Linked DNA regions of Homo sapiens: region 1 is linked to region 2. Evidence: fine-mapped expression QTL. Tissue or cell type: whole blood. Region 2 holds a variant in brackets; the other region holds the start of a gene. All regions are shown on one strand. Distances are from middle to middle.

Region 1 (2,760 bases), 36 kb after region 2:
ACAGACATTATATACAGCCTAGGGTGGTAAATGCTATCATGGAAAAATAAAGCAGGGTAAGGTGACAGAGAGTTGTAGGGCCAAAGAAAGCTCTTTTCCTGGGGGTGCCAGGCAGGCTCCTCTGACCAGGTGATGTTTCAGAGGAGACCGGAAGGAGAGAGAGCCACACAGGAACCTAGGGGAAAGCCTGGAACAGGCACAAGGAAGAGCAAGTGCGAGAGCCCAGAGCCCGTGAGGGGAGGATGCCGGGCATGTCCGGGAGCAGTGAAGTGTCTGGAGTCACAGGAACTGAGCAAGGGAGTGAGTAGAGGAGAGGGGAGGGGAGGGGTGGGGTGGGGTTGTGGAGGGTTGAGGAGCTAAACAGGGTCAGCGTGGGGACGTAAGATGGGGGAGAGAAGGAGAGATTTTCCACACTGGGAAGCAGGGTCATTTTATGTTGGCTGCTGACTGTATGTATGTGAGCCTATGTATGGTTAATTAATCTGGCATGAATTTGTGTGCATGTATGTGTGTGTGGTTAAGTAAATATGTGTGTGAATTTGTATGTGTGAGCATGTTATGTGTCTATGTGAACACACGTACATATGTTTATGTTACTGTGTGTGCCATATGTGTTCCAGCGTATATGTGTGTCTGAGTGATCATGTATGCGTTTCTTTGTGTGTGAGTGACATAGTATGGACATGTGTCCCCTTCAAATCTCATGTTGAAATTTGATATCCAATGTGAGAGGTGGGCGTAGAGGGAGGTGTTTGGGTGACGGGGACAAATCCCTCATGAAGGGCTCAGTGCCACCCTCGTGGTAAAGAGTTCTCACTCTTAGTTCTGTGAGAACTGAGTGTTGAAAAGAGCCTGTCACTTCCTCCACTCTTTCTTCCTTCCTCTCTTACCCATGTGATCTAAACACACCTGCTCCCCTTCCCCATTTGCTGAGAATGGAAGCTTCCTAAGGCCCTCACCAGAAGCAGATGCTGGCACTATGCTTTGTGTACAGGCTGCAGAAACATGAGCCCAATACACTTCTTTCTTTTATAAATTACCCAACCTCAGGTATCCCTTTGTAAGCCACACAGATGGACTAAGACAGCGGTTCCATGCATGCTTAAGTGTATACAAGTGTCTCTGTGTTTATGTGTTTGTGTTTTTATGTGTGTCTAAGGAGTTAAGAGTATGTGTGTTTTGTGTTTCTGTGTGTCCATGATAATACACAAGACAGAAAAGGAGTTCCCATGGGGAAATGAGAACATGTTGGGAAGCCTCTCCTGGTATCCAGCCTCAGCCTCTGCCCTCGCCATGGGTCACAGAACAGACCAGTGCCATCGATGAGGTCACACAGTAGAGCTAGGATCTTAGCGACCATGGGGAGCTCAGTGTCCACTCTGGCTGGGGCCAGCTGGAGGCCTTCAGTACAGCCCCAGCCAACTCTCACTGAACAGCTGGAGCACCGACACCCTGGGCACTCATTTCAAATCATGAAATGCTACTTCACAGATCACAGGGGAGAACAGTCACCCACCGATGGGACCACCCTCAGCTTGACCAGCCCTGAGTCCACTGAGGAGAGTGTGGAAGTGTTCTGGCCAGGTAGGTGAAAAGAAAGGCCTGGAAGGTCAGCCAGCTGTGCTCCCTGGGAAGGAAGCCCTGATGGGAAGGGACAGTGCCAGGTTGCCTCCTGATACTGTTACCAAATGGTTGTGTTGACCATAAACATAGATGTGGAGGGAAAGGAAATTGATATTTATGGGACACTTGGTGTGACTGAGGCTGTTATGAGTATATAAGGTGTTTTCAGGGGATATGAGAATGAAAATGTAAAATGTTTATAATTATGTATTTATTTTAATGTGTATTTGAGAAAACAACACGTCCATCCTGTGATTTCAGCAGTGAAATAAAAAATTCCTTTATAACAAAATGATGAAAGTTAATCTAGAACATCAATTTGAAGACCGCGGGGACGTGTCTGTGGGCAGCACCTAAGTGTCACACCAGCTCTGGGGGCCCAATGGCTCCACCACTCATTCAAACTCCATGCCTCTCTTTCCTACTCTGTTGAATGGGAATCCTAACAATATAATTTCTTAGGGTTGTTTTGAATATTAAACTTGGCAAGCACTTCCATGGCAAGAGGGACACAGTAAGTGTTGAAGGAGATAGTGAGATGCCCCCTCGGGAAGGTGAAGACAGGTCACAAATGTTGAAGAGGATGGTGGGTCTGGGTGGCTTGGCCAAGGCACTTTGCATGTGTTGTTTTTTAAATGGGCTTTACTGAGGTGTCTTTTATGCACACAGACTTCAGCAATTTTAAATGCACAATTTAAAGAAGTTTGACACATGTACATTTGTGGAACCACCAACACAGTCATGATAAAGAAGATTTTTCAAAACCCCTAAAAGTCCCCTTGTGCCTTATTATGACCAGTCTCCTCTCACCCCGTCCCCAGCTCTGGGCAACCACTGAGCTGTTCTCTGTTGCTAAAAATTTGCCTTTTCTAGAATGTCATCTGAATAAAATCATATACGACATGGACTCTTTTTTTTTTTTGTTCACATTCTCTTATGACTACATGGCCTTTTTAATTGGCTTCTTTTATTTAGCATAATGCATTCAGGATTCATCCGTATTGTTGCACGTCTCAGTGGTTCATGGATTTAACAGGTTGCATCATATGGATACACCTCAGTCAGCTTACCTATTCCCCAGTTGATGGTCTTTTGCTTGGTGATTACTCTAATACATTATTTGATCCTTATCATCAT
Region 2 (2,760 bases):
CTAGGCCGTGCCTTCAGCTCTCTCCAAAATAACTCATCTCAGCTTGTGTAGAGCAGCCCTGCCATCTTCCTCCCCAGGAGCTGGGGTGGCTGCCCTCCCATGTTTCTGGGGGACCATAAGACAGAGGGACATCCACTCTTGCAGAGGGCTTCTTGCTGTTGGGAGAGCCACTTACAGAGCAATCTGTGTGCTGCAGGCCTGAGGTGGGAATGGCAGCTGTGAGGGGGCTGGAGCCCACTATTTTGTCAGGGAGGCACAGAGTACCAGGTCCAAATGGGGCATCAGGGAGAAAGCAGAAACTCTAGAATCTAGAGCCCATCGAGTGCCCTTGTGCAAATTAGGAAAAGCTTCTATGGTCAGAGGCTGATCTGACCACACATGGAAGCTACACAGGTGGAGGCTGTGGAAAGCCCCCGCATCTCAGCAAGTCCTCTGGAGGTAGCCCTCTGCCCTCTGCTCTCTGCTCTAGGCAGCAGCAAGGGCCTGTATTCTGGCTCTCTGACCCTGCCCAGTGTGAACAGTTCAAGGGAGGTGGTCAGCCAGACTTATGCAGTCGGTGGTAGCAGTCAGATGGGGTGAAGCCAGATTTGGCCAGAACTGTGCCTATTATGGCCTCAGCAAATCTACAGGTTAGAAGGGTGCCTGTTTCACACAGCCTTACCTCAGTCCCCTAGGACTCTCCTGTGGGTGCCAAGCTCCCTCCTCCTTCTTGCATGAGATCTCGGAGAATTCCCACAGAGAAAATGCAGTGCAGTTCCTGCTGGTCCTCGTGGGCTTCCTCCTGGGGTCTCCCACAGATCTAAATGCAGCCGAGGCACTCCAGAGACCTCTGGCTGTGATGTCCAAGCAGGCCTGCTAGGGCCAGCCATCCTCCAGCTACTTTGCAGAGCCAGGGGACATCAGCCAGTGCTGGAGGCTTGCAGGGGGTCTATGGCCCAGGGGGTCCTCCCCAGCTCATGACCCTAGCAGGATGCAGGGGTGGGGCCGGCCAGGCTGCTGTGCTGAGCATGGACCCTCACCCAAGGGCTCATGAGTGTGTAGAGTCACAGCTCCAAGCACAGGAGGGCTGCATGGAGGGATTTCCCTCCCTGAGGAGGGGAAAGGCTGCCACTGAGTGGCTGTGGGGCTGGCTCGCAGGAAGGGCTGGGCCCTTGGCTGTTTGAGTGCACAGCTGGGTTATCTGCCCACGTTGGTCTCCCTGCAAGTGACTCAAGGTGGTGGTGGAGTTGGGGTGGCAGTGGGAATTCACTCAGTCCCTAAGTCAGACCACCAAAAATAGAGCCTCTTTGGGGCCAGGGATTAGGGGAAGCCTCACAGCTTGGAGGGGACACAGGATGGGACATAGAGGATGGTGCCTAAGGGACTGGCCTCTTTTTGGGGGTGAGCTGAACCTCAGCCAGGGGTCCCAGCCACAGAGAGGGGCAGAAGGAGCTGAGGGTTCA[G/A]GGCAACACATTTGGGGGGTGAAGTCAATGAGGAAGGATGCAGGACAGCCTGGCGAGAATGGAGACCGTGATGCTGTTGGAGAAACCAAGGCCAGGGCTGGGGCCTTTTGATGTTAGGGCTTTCTCCTCTTCCTTTCTCTTCCCTCCCAATGATGGTCTGAGTGACTCAAGCACAGCCTGAGTGTGTCTCTTGAGTGTCTCTGTGTGTACCTATGTCTTTCTCACCCTTTCTAACCTGAGTCCTTCCTTCCTCTCTGCTCGGATTTCATCTCAGGCTAGCATGAAGTTTCCATGCCAACACTGCAAGTGAGAGCAATGCCCACCAAGGGAGGATGGGAGGGGGGACCAAGCAACATGCTAGTGTGGCAGGGGGAGGGCGTGGGGTGAGCCTGGGGCTCAGGGGTCTGGCCCCACCCACTGAGGCCCTGCCCTCCCCTGTCCTCCTGCCTTCTGCCCAGTAAAGGCAGAGAGAGATCAGAGGTGTCAGCAAAGGGTCCCGTCCCAGGAAAGGGTGAAGACGTAGCACACACAGCTCTGAGTTGGGAGTGTCAGTCTGGAAATGTGCTCCCACCCACAGCCTTCCATTGAATATAAGCCTTTGCCCCATGTCCGGAACGATGTTCAACCTAGCTGGAGCAGCAAGATTGACTTAAAAAAAACAATAAGACAATGGAATGAAGCTGATTGGGGCTTCAGAGAACAGACAAAATCAGAGTCATATTGTGTGCGGTGGTGTCTGTGTGTGTGAGCAAATGTGCTCACATGGGGCTTGTGATCTGTGGGAAAGAGAGAAGATAAGTCATTGAATTTTCAAAAATATCTGTGATTAGAACAAAGCTGAGAACTTTTGCTTTAGAAAAAGCTTGGGGAATCTTTACCAGTCTAAAAAATTAGACTGCCGGAAAAAATTCTGAACTCTAGCAGGACAATTCCTCTCTCCACCAAACACACACAGAGCAAAGCTGTCCCCTGCAGAGCTCCAACCTACCACGCCACTCTGGGCATCACTGAGTGTGGTCAGCAGACAGGGTTGGGTGGAGGATGTCTTTGCTATGATGCTTCCTTCATCATACCATCTGGTCTTTCCCAGTGAAGTCACTTGTTTCCCTTTGTGAGAAACAGGAGTGGTAGCACACTCTCCTGCCTTTGCCTGGAAGTTTGAATGTGAGACTCAGACTTGGATCTTACCATTTGCCCATCCCCAGCCCAAGTCCATGCAGCCCTAGGGCTTGATGGTTTTGGTGGTGTTGTATCTGTTAGTTCACTGGATTCACATTCACGTCTGTAGGCCTTCCTGGACTCTCAGTGCAAACCTGCC

The links. PIP is the estimated chance that this variant, and not a neighbour inherited with it, causes the effect. A credible set is the group of variants that fine-mapping cannot tell apart.
Region 1: it holds the start of FAM170B, and the variant in region 2 is the best candidate, but not a certain one, in a credible set for the expression of FAM170B in whole blood (TOPMed, PIP 0.57).

What each region holds. Positions count from the first base shown.
Region 1 is chr10:49,132,631-49,135,390 of GRCh38, reverse strand. It overlaps FAM170B (family with sequence similarity 170 member B), which reads left to right and starts at 1,370. Exons shown (of 2, transcript NM_001164484.2): 1 at 1,370-1,584. The coding sequence starts at 1,473. All of the region lies in intron 1 of FAM170B-AS1 (FAM170B antisense RNA 1), which reads right to left.
Region 2 is chr10:49,169,055-49,171,814 of GRCh38, reverse strand. All of the region lies in intron 1 of TMEM273 (transmembrane protein 273), which reads left to right. Among named protein-coding and RNA genes, the nearest start is that of TMEM273, 18 kb to the left of the region's middle. RefSeq lists an enhancer at 514-1,013. The variant G/A (reference allele first, on the strand shown) is at 1,443.